Linked DNA regions of Homo sapiens: region 2 is linked to region 1. A link means that fine-mapping ties the variant in region 1 to the expression of a gene that starts in the linked region. Tissue or cell type: testis. Region 1 holds a variant in brackets; the other region holds the start of a gene. All regions are shown on one strand. Distances are between the middles of the regions.

The links. PIP is the estimated chance that this variant, and not a neighbour inherited with it, causes the effect.
Region 2: it holds the start of UCK2, and the variant in region 1 is fine-mapped to the expression of UCK2 in testis (GTEx, PIP above 0.99).

The regions. Positions count from the first base shown.
Region 1 is chr1:165,893,360-165,901,462 of GRCh38, reverse strand. UCK2 (uridine-cytidine kinase 2) reads right to left here. Exons shown (of 7, transcript NM_012474.5): 4 at 5,131-5,273. Among named protein-coding and RNA genes, the nearest start is that of MIR3658, 11 kb to the left of the region's middle. RefSeq lists a silencer at 477-771 and an enhancer at 1,743-2,942. The variant C/T (reference allele first, on the strand shown) is at 5,006.
Region 2 is chr1:165,823,793-165,831,895 of GRCh38, reverse strand. It overlaps UCK2 (uridine-cytidine kinase 2), which reads right to left and starts at 4,282. Exons shown (of 7, transcript NM_012474.5): 1 at 3,964-4,282. The coding sequence starts at 4,062. RefSeq lists silencers at 3,394-3,623, 3,684-4,163, 4,244-4,493 and an enhancer at 3,375-3,928.

The DNA.
Region 1 (8,103 bases):
ACACACATGCACAGGTGCATGCACAGAGAGGCCAGGGAACGGGGAGGCTGTCATGGCTATGATCCAGGCTGACAGGAAATCTATAAGATGAGAAGGTGAGAAAACTGTCAGGAAATCCACATTTCCAGAAAGCTGGGCACTAATGATGCTGCCATTCGACTTTTGTAACAGCTCCTCGATTTACGAAGTGTTTTCTCCATGGGAGACCTGGTAATAAAACAGTTGGCTGATCGCTAATGTGTCAGGACTTGCCCACCCAGCCCAGCAGCAGCCTTCTCCAGCCAGGAAATGGTTTTCCCCACCCCTGCAACGCTGGACCTGGGCTCCTGCTGCCGACCTGCTGCTCTGGCAGATCTGCTGGGAGACTCGCTAAGAAGGAGCCCTAAGGAGCTGCCACGTGGCTCACCCCCCAGAAGTCCCCAGAGCTCCGGCACACATGGCTAACCAGAGTAGCACCGCCAAAACACACAGCCAGCGCGGCCTCCAATTCTTCACACGTCTCCAGATAAAGCCCAAAGAAAAAAGGAAACCAGATCAAAAGGGTATCAGAGCTAGGGAAAAAACAAACACACCCGTGCTTGGGCAGCTTTTACTTAAAGCCCTGCAAACGCCTGATGCTGGATTGTTTTGCAACACATGCTTTTCATACAATTGCTGAAGGCTTTAGCACTGGAGGAAGCTTTGTCCTTCTCCCAGCACACACACACACACACGTGCACACACACAAACACACATGCACACAAACGCACGCACGCACACACAGTGCACGTCCACACCCTGTCACGTAGTCCTCCTAACTGCCCTCAGCCTGGGCCTTCAGCCCCCTTCCTTCTGTAGATCTGGTGGCTTCAGCTGTTTTGTCACTGGAGAGAGGAAACTGGTCGTGCAGAAAGTAGGAGGAGGAGGTAAATCACAGTGAAGCTGCTCTGTAGCCCAAAAGCTGCTTCTTGTTCTACCTCTATGGGCTCTGGGGGGAAAACTGCCCTGGACCTGAATCCTAACCCCAATAACTCCTACCTCTGTGAACTTCGACAAGTGACTTTAACCTCTTTGAATCTTAAGTTCCTTAACTATAAAACAGGGACAATAATGGTACCTTCCTCATACAGTTACTATTCAGGAATACAGAGATGTGCATAAAACTCTTCAGCACCATAGCTGGCACCTTAGCACATGTTCAATAAGCATGTGTTCTATGATGATTACGACCACAACAGAACCTGAGGACGCGTTGGGAGGGCAGTGCCTCCCTGACAGAGCAGCTCAACACCGTGGGAGCGCGGGAACCTCGAATTCAGGTAAGCAGGTCAGACCCAGCTGAGCGGGGGCAGCAAAGGGAAAAAGGAGTCCCGCAGGGCAGCTGGAAAGGCAGGTTGCCACGCGGGAAGGGAGAGCAGGACACAAGCACATAGGACAACATACGTGAGGAAGGAAAAAAAGCAAGGAAGATAGGGAATAGTCCCACTACAGCTTCCACGCTGGAAAAGCAAATGGGGAATGGGTCAGAATGTTGCCCAGACACTGGGAACATGCAACATCATAAGGCCTTGCCCACCTCTGCTCCCCAAGAACCTCCGATAGAACTATCACCTCAGGCAGACTGTGCCTCCCTGAGCCAAGGACAACAGAGGGCCAGCCAGTTCCCTGCACTGAAAGGCCCTTCTCCTCAGGCAGAGTCAGGAAACAGGGCCGCGCCAAGGACTGAGTCCAAACAAGGTCTTGGCACAACCTGGAAACCCCAGGGGCTCAAAACCAGCCCCTCCATCACTGCTCTGACCCCAGCACATTTGCTGGGCCAGGACAGGCCTTTTCAGAGGACAGGGTACAGGGCAGGAAGCTACAAGTCTGCCCACATTCCCTGCTGGGCTTCCACGTCAGCCCTTCCAAACCCAGACTTGCTCTTTCTGGTTAGCCAAAAGCCAAGAAAGAAACTTAGAGGGACCCAAAATAAAGATAATTCCTCAATGGTGAAGTCAATCACTTTAAAAATCTGATGAGGAAATGTGCTACTCTATAGTAAAAGAATGGGCTGAATCCCCCAAGGCCCAGTGCAGCCCTAATTCTATGAGAACCAGAGAATGATGGATGAGGAAGATGAGGGGTCAGCCATCCTGAATCTCCCTGCCCCACCTCCTCCCTGTCCCCGTATTCAGAGCTGGGTGGTGGTAAAGAGCACAGAGGGAATATGAAGGCAAATGAGGCTAGAAACCAATCCCGAGAAGATCAAGGGTTTCCATCAGGAAGGAGGTAGTTTCCAGGGCTGCTTCACTCAAACACAGATCTCTCTCCCACATGAGGGTCAACTCAGAATCTGGAGGTCACATGCCCAGGAGGGTGTGACAGATGGGTAAAATCATGGAGCTAACTCAAGTCTCCAGGAATGTTCAAGCTCACTCAACAGCTGCTTCTGACTAACCAGCCTCCCTACCCCAGCACCCCCGCACTCCACAAAGCACATGCCAAGCATGTTTTTTGTCCTACGTGGAGAGAGAATGAATTTGTAGAAATAGCATGCAGAAAAGTCCCATGAATCCATCAGGAAAGTGACTCGGCAGTAGGTGACATGTGAAGTTAGCAGATCTGAAATGAGAAAGCAGAGCCCTGCCCAGGCAGCCTGTTCAGAGAAGGCGGAGAGGCAGAGCTGGCCCTAAGAAACCCCCAGAGGGCCAGCACCATTGTAGGAATTGCTCCTATTTCACATAAGAATCCCATGCAAGAAAGGAAGGGAAAATGTTCTGTTGAAACCACACCGTGATGATCTGTTTGAATTAGACACTAGGATGCACTTTATTTCCAGCGTCTTGCTGCTGCTCAAAACTTGGTTCTAATCTCCTGTGCTGGTTCCTGCACTCCCTGCTGCGAGGCCTCCCTCGGCAGCACTGCATCCCTGAGACTGAGTACCACTGCTGGACTAGTGATGGCATCAGTCCGGGCATCACTAGCTCCTGAGGACATGACCGGAGCAGATCCCCTTGGAGGATCTAACCAGTCTTGTCAGAAAATTCAGAAAACGAACAGCACCGACCCCTTCAGCAGAAGCAGATTTCTGATCTGCCACATAGATATTTATTGACTAATGCACCACCAGGCATTTTACCTGCACTACCTCTCATCTTCACAACTATCCCAGAAGTACCAATCATAAGACCACATTCTAATAGGAAAATGAGATACAAAAAAGTTAAAACACAATTTGCCAATTTGCACAATTTGCCACACATCTAGTAAGTGGTAAAACCAGGATCTCAGCCCAATTCGCTGGACTCTAAAATTTATCTGTCCCTGTGTATCACACTGCCTCTCTAATTTGACAAGCTGACATGGACACTGAGCAGATCAACCAAAGCAGGGCCGGAGTTTGTGGATTAAGGTGACAAGCCAGGCCCTGGGGCAGAAGCATGAGGGGTTGTCAGGCTCAGGGTTCAATTATCTATCCAAAATGACCATGCAACTCTTACCCAGCCAGAGTCGTGACACTAAAAGCAGGCCTGTCTCCCCTGTATTATCCATAAAGAAACCCAAGCCGGGGTGTCGCAAGAGCCTAGTCACAAAGCTAGCTGGGAAGGGCTCTGCTAGAACTAAAAGTCTCCTCCCATTCCATTCTTTTTTCCATCACACAAAACTAACTGTCCCTCACCCCACCTGGGAGCAAGATGTAGCTCCCACTGACTTAATAGCATATGTATCTATTACTACTTAGAAGGGCAAAGCTCAGGACTTGTTTCTGTAGGTTCTACTGGTCTCATGAATAGTTCTTACAATTACGGTGCTAAATGGGATAAACTACAGATCTGTTTCATGAACCGAAAAGAGAAAATTACCCAGACTTTGAAGTCAGAGGGCCCTGGGATACAGCTTATAATATCTGAAACTGTCAATAATGTGTCCTGTGACTAGGAGCTAACCTCGTCATTTCCTGTGTCTCCCTGCCTCTGTCACACAACGGAGACTCAAACCTTCTCACCTTTCATTCCTCTATTCAGTCGCCTCCACCCACTGCCCTTGCTGGGTCCTGGTCGATTCTAACTCTGCTAATACTCTTCTCATCTCAACTCTGCTCCCTCTCCCACCCATCTAAGGACCACAGCCCTGCCTCTCGTCTAGATCAGCAGAGCAGTCTCCAAAGAGCTGCTCCAGCTACAGGCTTCACTTACATTTCCTTTGTCAGAACCAGTGTCCAACACAGAACAGTGGCCACTTCACTTGCCTCGCTCAGAACCTCACAGTGGCTCTCCCTTGCCCACCGAGAACCAGACTAGAGATCTCAGTCTCTAAAACCAGACCCCAACCTACTTTGTAGTGTCTCTTCGTACAACCCTCTGTACACTCCAGGTTCCTGCCACTCTCGGAACAAGCCACTGTCTGTACATCTCTGCCGTGCACCTTCATGGGTTGCCTATAGCGTCACCCTACCCCACCACATCCAAGTCCCAACCCTTCTTCCTCCATGAAGCCTCCCAATCTCTCCTGGTGGAAGCGAACTCTCTGCTGAATACCCTGTAGAGCTCAGTTCACAGGCTGGGCTCCTCTACCAAGGGGCACTGCTGTGCCTTCAGCACACAAGCACAGGGACTTAGCACAGGCAGGCCCACACTTAGTAGGGCCTGCGGAGGGCACAGCTGACTTCCCTCCTGAGCTGACTGGAAAGAGTGATAATGCCTCCATAAAGCCTGCTGGAAAATAAAGGGCTAGAGAAGCAGGCTAACAGGATGAGCTGCCCAGTACTTCAGGCACAGGGGATCCTATCCTCGGGGGTCCTACAGTTAGTTCCCCAAATCAGAGCATCTTCATTTTGATGTCTTATAAACAAATTGCAAGGAACTAAGCATTTAATCAAACTTTTCCAGGCAAAACCAGATGTCAGTGTCTTATTTAGTCTCTGTGACCTCACAAGCCTTTCGTTATCCCAAACAGTAAGTGACTAATCCCTTCTCAAATGTTACCAAGTGTCTGGGCAGCAGGATATCCTGGGGCTGGACTGACGCAGCCGGGCTGGACCATGCGA[C/T]ACACAGCTGCCTCAGGGAAGGCATGGGCTTCAGACTCAGGCGGGTGGGGTCCTGTCACAGGCTCCCAGCTCCCCCGCCCTCAAGGTGGCCACCAACAGGGCCACCTGAGGCTTTTAGAACGCACCTCTGCGTGAGAGCCGGGTGTCCGCATCTGTATCCACAAAAAGCTTCATCTGGAACAGGTCTCGTACCTCCTGGGAGTAGAAGGCCAGGATCCCTTCAAAGAGCACCACGTCTGCGGGATAGACAGTAACTGTCTCCTCCTTCCTGCAAAGCACAGAGCAGATAATGGGCCAAGCCAGGCAGGGGCTAGCAAGGGACAGAGAACAAGGGCCAGAACATCTGGCTGGGCTGGGTTCTGGGTTCCTTGCCCCCACAGACTTCAAGCGGGGGCTAAAGACTTGGCTAATATGGTCTTACAGAGCCCTCGGACCACCACCAAAGAGCCAAGGGTGATCACGGCCGGGACAAAGGTCTCCTTTGACCACTTCTGAGCTTTCACCATGAAACAGAAATACACGGCAGACATCCTTCTCCTTGGAATTAAAAAAACCTGCTGTTGAATGAAGAATAAAGGCAGACAAAAACAGATGTGATTTCTTTTTTTCTCTGAAGGCGTCTCCAGGAATGCTCTCATGGCCTGGCATTTATGGAACCTAACACTCTGAACTTTAAAAACAGAAACTCACAGTTTTCTCTCAACAACTCCATCCCCTCCCCGCCAGTCCTGAGGCAATTGAAAGGAGGGAGGAAAGGACAGAAGGGGAAGGGAAGGAGGGAAAATAAAGAAAAGTTTTGGGAAAGAGGATACAGACGAGAAAGCATTTGTGAGGAAGTACAGAATCCCGACGTCTGTCTGGTCTGGCTCTACCCCAAACCAACAAAGTGGCCACAGGTCAATCCTGAGCTCCCTAGAGCTGCTCTTCCTTATCAATAAAGCAGAAATATGCATGACCTCATCCACCCAACCCACATGGTTGGGTAGCCTAGGGCAGGCACTAATTGTAAACATGACTTTTCTTTCTTTTTCTTGTTTTTGGAGACAGGGTCTCACTTTGTCACCCAGGAGGCTGGAGTGCAGCGGCGCAATCTTGGACTCACTGCAGCCTCAACTTCCCAGGCTCAGGCGATCCTCCCGCCTCAGCCCCCTAAGTGTCTAGGACTACAGATGCACACCACCACCCCAGGCTAATTTTTGTATTTTTGGTAGAAACGGGGTTTTACCATATTGCCCAGGCTGGTCTATAACTCCTGGACTCATGCAACCCACCCACCTCAGCCTCCCAAAGTGCTAGGATTACAGGCATGAGCTACCAAGCTCAACCAACATGACTTTTCAAAAAGCAAGAAGGGTGAAACATTGCTAAACGGTTAGGCGACGGGCTGTCACAGATGGCCTTGCTTGTGCTCAGCTTTGCCTTGCTGCAGCTTTCACTGTGTTTTGTCTTTTGATTCTGTCCTATGCCCACCTTATATGTCACCAACTGCCTCTTGCTCAAAATTCACTGAAAATAGAGAAATAATCATCATTGCAAGGTTTCCACTCACCCTGACTAGCACACTGGCAAACCAAATAAAACAAAGTCTCTTAAAACAGTAGTTCCATCTGTGCAAACATAAGGAGGTCAGTATCAACGGCCAGCTCAAGAGGGTGCCGTTGGAACTCCTTCCCATAAACACTTCCTGATGCCTTCTCAGCTTGGACCAACAGGCTTGTGTCTGAGTTTTAAGGCAGGCACTGCTAGGGTAGCTAGCAAGTGGCAGAACGGGGCAGGGAAGACGGGAAAAAAGGACTAGGATTAGGAAATGCCCTAGAATTGTGGTGTATCTGAGATGCATATCAGAACCATCTGGGAAGCTTATAAAAATATCCCTACCTGGATCCTACCCCCAAGGAGCTCTGATTTAATGAGTCTGAAGTGGAGCTAGAACTTCAACACTATTTAGAAGCTCCCAAGATATTTCTAACATGCAGCCAGGGTAGAGAAGCACCAGTCTAGAGGAATGTCAGCTGCCAGAAAATGGTGTGCCCATTGTCATTGTGCATAAGAAGGCAACCTAGAGAAGTTCAGAAAACAGAACCAATGGGTAAGTGAAATAGTGAGCCACTCTCTAGGCAACTCCCCTACACCAAGGAGAGTGTGGGAAGGCTTTGTCCAAAAATAAAGTGAATGTATGTGCAAGAGTCCACTTGAACACACTAACAGAGAACACAATGGCTGCACTAAGTTTACATATCCAGGTTAAGTATCCCTTATATGAAATGCTTAGGTGTTTAGAATTTTTGAATTTTGGATTTTTTTCAGATTTTGGAATATCTGCATTATATTTAGGGCATCCCTAATATGGCAGGGGGAGAGAGGATCTACAATGAGCCTCCCTAACATGAAAATCCAAAATCTGAAATGCTCCAATGAGCATTTCCTTTGAACGTCACACTGGCACTCAAAAAGTTTCAGATTTTGGAGCATTTCACATTTTGGGTTTTTAGATTAGGGATGTTCAATCTGTACTGACACTAGATATTAAGAGCATTTTAGGATGCCTAACTGATAAATACTAAAAAGGAAAAGTGGTTTTCCTTCGGAAGGAGAAAATTAACTGCCTAATTTGTTGGTGGTGCCTTAAGAAGTTAGAATTAATCATTTCCCAAGTCCAAACGCAGGTCTAAAAACTGTCATAACAGCTCAGAGTTTTTAAAAAACAACAACAAATTTATTGAGCAACTACTAGCCCAGAATGTGCAAGGAGTCATACCTGGCATAATATACCACTTAGGAATTTAGAGTCTGGCTGGGAAGCCCCAGAAAGAAACTAGCCAATTAGATCATCTGAGATAACCCAGTCTAACCATCTCATTTGGCTTATGGGGAAAAGGATGCTCAGAGAAATGTAATTGCAACAAGTAAATGTCTTCTTCATTTTAGCCCAACAAATTTTTGTTTGTACCAAACGCCCATGGGTGGGATGGAATCAGTTAACCCTGAATGGCTCGATGTCCAATTAAGTGGCCCTTAAGATTTGCAAGGAGGTAGGAAAGGGGTGGATATGGGTCTAGGGTGATCAGTGAAAGTTTCTAAGACATGAGCTTTGAGCC
Region 2 (8,103 bases), 70 kb after region 1:
TACTCAGGAGGCTGAGGCAGGAGAATTGCTTGAACCCAGGAGGTGGAGGTTGCAGTAAACCAAGATGGCACCACTGCATTCCAGCCTGAGTGACAGAGTGAGATTCCATCTCAATAAAAAATAAAATAAAAAATAAAAATAATAGCCTGGGACCATATTAGGGGCCAAGGGGATTTGTACTGTACTGAAGTGTTTGACCTGTACTGAGCAGTGGGGAGTTACCCAAGGTTTCCAAAAAGGAAAATGGCACATCCAGAGCTATTCCTAAGGAAGACCACTCTGATGGCAGTGTAATGGAGCAGATTTTTCTCGTTTCAGAGGCTATTTTAGTTGTCCAATGAAGAGGTTACAGAACAAGGAACAGGCAAAGATGAAAAGGAAACAGAATGACACCTAAAAGTCACAGATATGTATGCAGGCAAAGAAGTTTAGCCTGGGTTTTTTTCCACCTTTTAGTGTTATTACACCTGTCCTTTAGGGGGAAATATGAAAATCTGGTTTGGTTTGCTTTTGAGATGGGGTCTTGCTACGTTGCCCAGTCTGGAGTACAGTGGCACCATCAAAGCTCACTGCAGCCTCCAAGTCCTAGGCTCAAGCCATCCTCCTGCCTCAGCCTCCTGAGAAGCTGGTGGCACATACATGGCTAATTTTTAATTTTTCGTAGAGACGGGGTCTCTCTCTGTTGCCCAGGCTGGTTTTGAAGGCATCCTCCTTCCTTGGCCTCCCAAAGTGCTGGGACTAGAGGTGTGAGCCACCGTACTCAGCCATAACCTTTTTTGGTTTTTGTTCGAGACAGGTCTTGCTCTGTCACCCAGGCTGGAGTGTAGTGGCACAATCACAGCTCACTGCAGCCTCGACCTCCCATACTCAAGCATTCCTCCCACCTCAGCCTCTAGACCTGCAGCACTGCACCTGGATAATTTTATTATTTGTAGAGAACAAGTCTCACCATGTTGCCCAAGCTGAGAATCTGGTTTTAAACATAGGTCAAAATAACTTTCTCGACCCACCACAATTTTCATTTTATACAGATGGGGTCTCACTATGTTGCCCAGGCTGGCCTCAAACTCCCGGGCTCAAGCAATCCTCCTGTCTCTGCCTCCCAAAATGCTAGGATTACAGGTGTGAGCCACCAGGCCCAGTCTTGGACTTTTTTAATAACAAAAATATCAATAATCTTAAAGGATGACAAACTATCAATCATTCGTATGTCAAAAATGTACAAACAAGCTTGGGCAACATGGTGACCTAGTCTCTACAAAAAATAAAGATTGCCGGCGTGGTGGCGCACACCTGTAATCCCAGCACTTTGGGAGGCCGAGGCGGGCGGATCACAAGGTCAGGAGATTGAGACCATCCTGGCTAACACAGTGAAACTCCGTGTTTACTGAAAATACAAAAACATTGGCCAGGCGTGGTGGCGGGCACCTGTAGTCCCAGCTACTTGGGAGGCTGAGGCAGAAGAATGGCATGAACCCGGGAGGCGGAGCTTGCAGTGAGCCGAGATCATGCCACTGCACTCCAGCCTGGGCAACAGAGCAAGACTCTGTCTCAAAAAAAAAAAATAATAAAAAAAATAAAGATTAAAAAGCCAGCCCAGGTAGTGGCTCACACCTGTAATCCCAGCACTTTGGGAGGCAGAGGCGGGCGGATCACTTAAGTCTAGGCATTTGAGATCAGCCTGGCAACATGGCAAAACCCCTTCTCTACAAAAAAAAAAAAATTAGTCGGGCATGATGGTGCAAGCCTGTAGTCTCAGCTACTCTGGAGGCTGAAGTGGGAGGATCACTTGAGCCCAACAGGTGGAGGGTACAGTAAGCCAAGATCTCACCACGGCACTCCAGCCTGGGCAAAAGAGTGAGACCCTGTCTCAAAAACAAAACAAATCAAACAAACAAAAAAATTAGCCAGTCATGATAGTGCCAGCCTGTACTCCCAGTTACTCCAGGTTGAGGCTGAGGCTGCAGTGAGCTGTGACAGTGCCACTTACTCTGGGCTAGGTGGAAATGCGAGACCTTGTCTCAAAAATTAAATTAATAAATAAAAATGTACAACATGCTTTGAAAACTGCAGAAAAACGGACCCTTCCTTTCTTGAGAGTTTCTACACTCTTCCTCCTGGATAAAAATAGCAGAGAATTAGCTACTCCCACATTGGCTCACCACTATCCCATCCCTCACTTTACCCAAGTAACACCAAAAGCTTGATTATCAAGTTAGAACAGGTGACGACTGAGAAACACACAAGAAGAACAATAACAGAGTTATTCACCTTTTAGGGTCGCAGTTTTCACCCTCGTGGTAACTAAATTATTCAGATGATTACCAAGATCATTTTGTTTCTAAAAGCTCATATGCAAGTTTAAGCCTCCTCCCCACTTTAGGAGGACTGGACTTCAGCTTAAAATTTGGACCCCACTACATGCCAGGCAGGCATTGTGCTAGGAGGGCTGGGAAAACAGCCATGAACAACAACAACAAAAAATGCTCCCAATCCAACAGGAATATGCCAGAAGAGCAAGAATAATTCTAAAAGAACAGGTAAAGCTTCCTGAAGGGCTAGCATTCTGGTTTTGCTTTGAATTACTAGTATAAGTCATAGTAAAGAACATACTCAAAAATTACAAATTTTTTTAAAAGCCTTCAACCAGGGAGCACACAGAACAGAAACTTCAGGACCTAAAGCAGGCCGATTCCTAACCCCGGGAGCTACGGACGAGATCAACTTCATCAATAAAGAAGTCCAGCAGCGCCAGCCGCCGTGTCTGGCTGGGCTCCTTGCGCTAAAGTAGTCCAGACCAGGAGGGAAAAATGTAAAACCAACATGGAGGAGGGGCTACTGACGAGTCGGTTCGGGAGCTAAAACCTCGTGGCTCTTTCCTCATGGCGCCAACCAGCCTTCCTGCTCTGCTCTCCCCAGCCGGGAGAAGCATCATCCTGCCTCTCCAAACCAGCACCCAGCACCCAGCTCTCAGGATCCCTTGAGGAACCCGTGCTCCAAATGAAGTTGGAGGGTGTTAAACGGTGGGAAAAACAAGTAGCCACATCTTAAAGGCTGTTAGGGGAGCAAAGAAAGAACCATCTGGGAGGACTCCACCCTTCTCCACCTGCAGAAAAAACCCCGGGTAAAGCTAGGAAGTCATTTCCCTTGTCTCTCCTTGCCTTGCGGATAAAACAAAGGAAACAGGCTCCTAAGAGGGTCAGACACCCATACGATGACCCCCTTCCGTGGATCCAAGACGCGTACGTCCTGGACACCGAAGAGCTTGGAGCCAGTACAACTTTCTCATTGAAGCCGACCACGTTTCCTCTTATAACCTTAAAAAACAGAAGCCCCTACTATTATCGTTTCATTGATGTCACGGCACCTATTTGGCTCTCAGACTTTTACCCGGAAACCCCTGTAATCCCCAGCCCTTGCGTGCAGCCCCACACTGGGCTCCCCTTCCCCGGGATGCCGCCTCGCGCGTTCCCGCCACCCTCGCCCTCTCGGCCGCGCTTCCCGGCTCGCTCCGCCCTCGGCACCAGGCTGCGCCGCGGGGCGAGCACGTCTGTGCCAGACCGGGGCTTGAGGGAGTCCATCGGGGGTTAGTGGGGGATCCTGCGGAAAGCCCTCTCCCCCGACACTGGAGTTGCAAAACAATAAGCATCCGCTTCCCTGCCCTTCCCCCATAGGACCCCGGCCACGAGTTATTAACGCGGGGGGAGAAAAGCCGGAGGAGCACTCCCGCCCTGCGATCGTGGCCGCGTACCCCCGGAACCCCCAAGGCCCGAGTCTTCGCCTGCCCCCGCCGCAGCGCCCCCAGGCCGCGCGGGGCGCACTCGGCGCTGGAGCGCGGCCGGGAGCGGAGGCGCGCGGGCCACGCGGTGGCTGCCGCAACTGACACGGCCCGCGGCCGCCGGCCACATGCGCCGCCCAGGGACAGAAGCCGGGAAGGGAGCGCGGCTCCGGGCCCCGCCGTACCTTGCCGCTAGCTGTTCCCCCGCTGACGCCTATAAGGAAGGGCTCGCCGCCGTTGGGCTGCTGGTGGTTCTGCAGGGTCTGCTCGCTGTCCCCGGCCATGGTTCGCGCCGCCCCTCCTCCCGCTGCCTGTGCGAACGGACGCACGCTCCCCGCCCGCGCCCGCGTCGGACTCCCTCCGCTTTCCGCAGCCGCCGCTGGGCGCTGCCGGGGCTGAGGCCGCTGTCGCTCGCCTGCGAGCCGCTCGGAGCCCGGTGACGGGGCTGGGTTTCCCGAAGGAGCCAAGAGCCTTCCTTTGCCCGCAGCGGCTGGTCCGGTTTACATCCCAGGCAGAGGTCAGCGTGATGCTGCTGCTCCAATCCGGGCGGGCAGCGCGCTGCTATTCGCCGAGGCGGAGGCGGCGAGGCGTCTGGCCCCAGCCTCCGCCCCTCCCGGGCCCCGCCGCCGCCCGAGGTCTCTGCGAAAGGTGTGAGCCCGACCTTCCCTCCCACCCGCCCGGTTAACCCTTTCTCCGACGCGCCCTAGTGGACCCTGGGGGAAAGAAACAGGCTGTTCTGTATTTTAATTTGGTATGCTACCACCTATTTTCAGAAGGGATAAAAAGCTTGAAGGAAATAATAGGCAGATTAGATAAGAAGGAATGGCCCAGGTTTGAGAAGCAAAATTTGAACAAGCTTGAAAGATTAGTGTGGAACGAAGAGTTAATGTCATTTACCCATTATCCAGGCTAAAAACTTGTGTTTCCAAAAAATGAGGGTTCTTTTTCCCTTCTCCCGTTCGCCAAGATAATATGTCAGCCGCTGGCTTTAGATATTTCCTGTCTTGGAAACCCCCCAGCGCCATCCTTTTTAGCAGGCCTGTCCTCGTGCGACTCTCTAGTGAAGGGCAATTTGAGGGGCTTATCTGAAGGGTGCCCTCCGTTGGAAAAGCAATTCCCTTCTAAACCACAGTATCTCATCCCATACACTGAGCTTCCTATGGAGTTAGGGTATCTGAAAACATACTGACATTTTGATCCATTAATATCTTCAATTGAACGGTTTTCCAGAGATTGGCAATCAGTCACTTAGAAAGGCAGTTTCAGACTCCACCTCTGGAGCCAGATTTCTGCATTCACATCCAGGTCCCTGAGCAAGTTACTTAATCTCTCTGTGCTTCAGTGTTCTTATCTGTTAAATGGGAATAATAATGGCAATTACATCCCAGGATTTTTGTGAGAATTAAATGAATTAGTGTATGTAAAGTTCTCAGAACAGTGCTGGTACAGTCTAGGCCCTGTATTAGTGTTTGAAGAGAAAAGGTTTCTAAAGCGCTGAAACTGGAAAGAAAAGTTTTGCTGGGACACACCTGAGAGAGGCAGGACTAGCCTAGTAACTTCCAGTCTCTTCTCCTGTGAACTTGGGACTAGTATCAATGAGCTGATGGGGCCTACAATCTAAAACAGAATTTACGTCAATAGCATTATCTTTTGAAACTTAGTAAATTACCTTAAATTGAAGATTATTTTGAAAAAAATAATTTTCTCTCAAGCCAGGGAAATCGAGGCTGCAGTGAGCCATGATCTCCCCACTGCACTCCAGCCTGGTCAGCAGAGCCAGAGCCTGTGTCAAAAAACAAAAACAAAAACAAAACAAAACAAAAAAAAGGATACCAGAGAAAACAAACTTTTTTCACTTTTAAATTAAAGTTGACACTTGAACAACACTGGTTCAAACTGTGAGGTTCACTTTTATGCAGCTTTTTTTTTAAACCAAGGGCAGATGGAAAACACAATATTTGTGCAGTTTCCTCAGGACTGACTGTGGGACTTCATGTGTGGATTTGGTTACATGTAGGCTGTCCTGGGACCAGTCCCTCCGCATATATCTAGGAATTACTGTATTTTATGTCACCATCTAACATCAAACTCGGTAGCAGCTCAGACAGGAGACAAAGATGGGGAGAGTGGCCACTACCTGGTACCCAGAAGCAGGCATTTGGGTGAAGTTTCCTAAAGGGGTGCCTTACCAAATAGCTATGGAGTGGGTGAGTTTTAGGTGGTCCTAGAGTTAGCCTCTTCTCCAAAAGGTCTTTTCTCTACTAGATAGATTTATTAGTCATCATGGACTTTTGTAGAACTCTTTATAGCCCATTGGAATTTGGAAGTTGAACCTACAGCTAAGGGTTAGCATGGGGATATTAGGTAGTTAAGGAGAAGAGGAGGAGGATAAAGGAATGCCAAAGGCCAGTGGGGTGGCTCATGCCTGTAATCCCAACATTTTGGGAGGCAGAAGAGTGAGGATCACTTGAGGCTAGGAGTTTGAGACCAGCCTGGGCAACATAATGAGACCCCCATCTCCACAAAAAGTACAAAAATTAACTGGGCATGGTAGTGCACACCTGTAGTCCCAGCTACACCAGAGGCTGAGGCAGGAGGATCACTTGAGCCCAGGAGTTCGAGGTTGCAGCTGTGATCATGCCATTGCACTCCTCTATCGACTTGTCTCTTAAAAAAAAAAAAAGAATGCCATGTCTTTCATAAACTTTTCTCAAATCTGCATCTTCCTTGTCATTCCTATAGTGTTTATTCCATAATATTTTATCATAAAAATTTTCGAGCACAGTTGAAAGATTTTACAGCAAACACCAGTATACCCACCACCTAGACTCTATCACTAACATCGTACTATATATATACTTGCTTTAAAACATAACTGGTCATCTACCCATCCCTCTATCCATCAAGGCATTTTTATTATAGGACTTACTTCCTTTTGCTTTGTTAATTTTAATTGACTTACTCCACACTGGCTTATACATTTCTTGTTTGGTTTGTTTTGTTTTGTTTTTAATTACTATATCCCCAACGCCTGGAACGGTTCTGGCACCTTGTAGGGCCTCAACAAATGAAAAGAGATAATGTCTCATTTCTACATCCCCCAGGCCCACTGAGCAGAATGATAAGCAAGTAGGAAGCATTTAATACATGATAAATGAATGAACAAATGAATGAATATGGAAGTAAGGACACCAACAAGTAAACTTAATTTCCGTCACTTTGGAAGGAAAGGCTTGTTCCCTTGATTGTATTAATGTGGTTACTATACTTATTTCTGAATGTTTTGTTTTCCTGGCATTCCAGAGTGACTGTCCCCATCTAATCTTAATGCATCTATTACCTAGTTGAGCTAATTCATTAACTGAGCTAATTCTCAATACTTCTCTGCACTTTGTTTAATAATAATAATATTTGACCTCTGTGCATGAGTTAATATACCTGAAAGTGTCTGAAAAAATCAAAAGCATTCTATATAAAGGTAAGGCCTAATTAGCAGAGGGCAGCCATCTGCATTCTGTACTCCCTGTTTTTCTTTCTCCTTCCTATCCCTAGGGCTGGCTTGCCTACATGTAAGGAAATTACCCGTGTCCATTTAAATTATGAAGAGTACTCTCAGCTCCACTGACCTCAACAAGGACTTTCACATCTCTGCCCCCTACAAAGCAAGGCAAGCTGCCTGTGCTATTCCCTGTGCTGTGTCATCCTCTCTTGGGAGCTTGGTCACCAAATCCCATAGCTAGGGATGTTCAAATCACATTTGAGCCTACCATAACAATTACACTGCAGATTCTGAATTAAGTGGTTTTGAGCTGTCCTCCTTTTCCTCCCACTAAAAAAAAAAAAAAATCTAATTTTTTAACAAAATTCAGAGTTAGAACAGATTCAAGGAAATACATTTTCTTGGTATCTGTGATGATTTTTTTTTCTTTTACAGATTTCAGTCTGATCAAGTTCTGGCCTAGTTAACATTTGGGCACGAAGTCAGCATGAGTATGCAAGTGCAGCTGTAGCCAAAGAACAATAAGAGACATTGCTGTTGACAGTCCTTTGTCTGCCTGCCTTCTCCCCTTGAGTAGCCATAGTTCTGAACTAGACAAGGAACGTTACATTTTGCACCCAACTGAAATGTTCTTTCTCTAGGTGCTTCATGCACCATGATCAGTTCTCTATTTGTTTATCTCATTCCCCAGCCAGAAAAATAGATGTTATCACACTTCATCATGTATCCAAAGTATTATCGTTCTCTGTATTACCTTTCTAATTACTTTCCACCTTTTATCAATCAGCAGTTGCTTTGTCAGATCATAAGTACTGTTCTGAAAAGA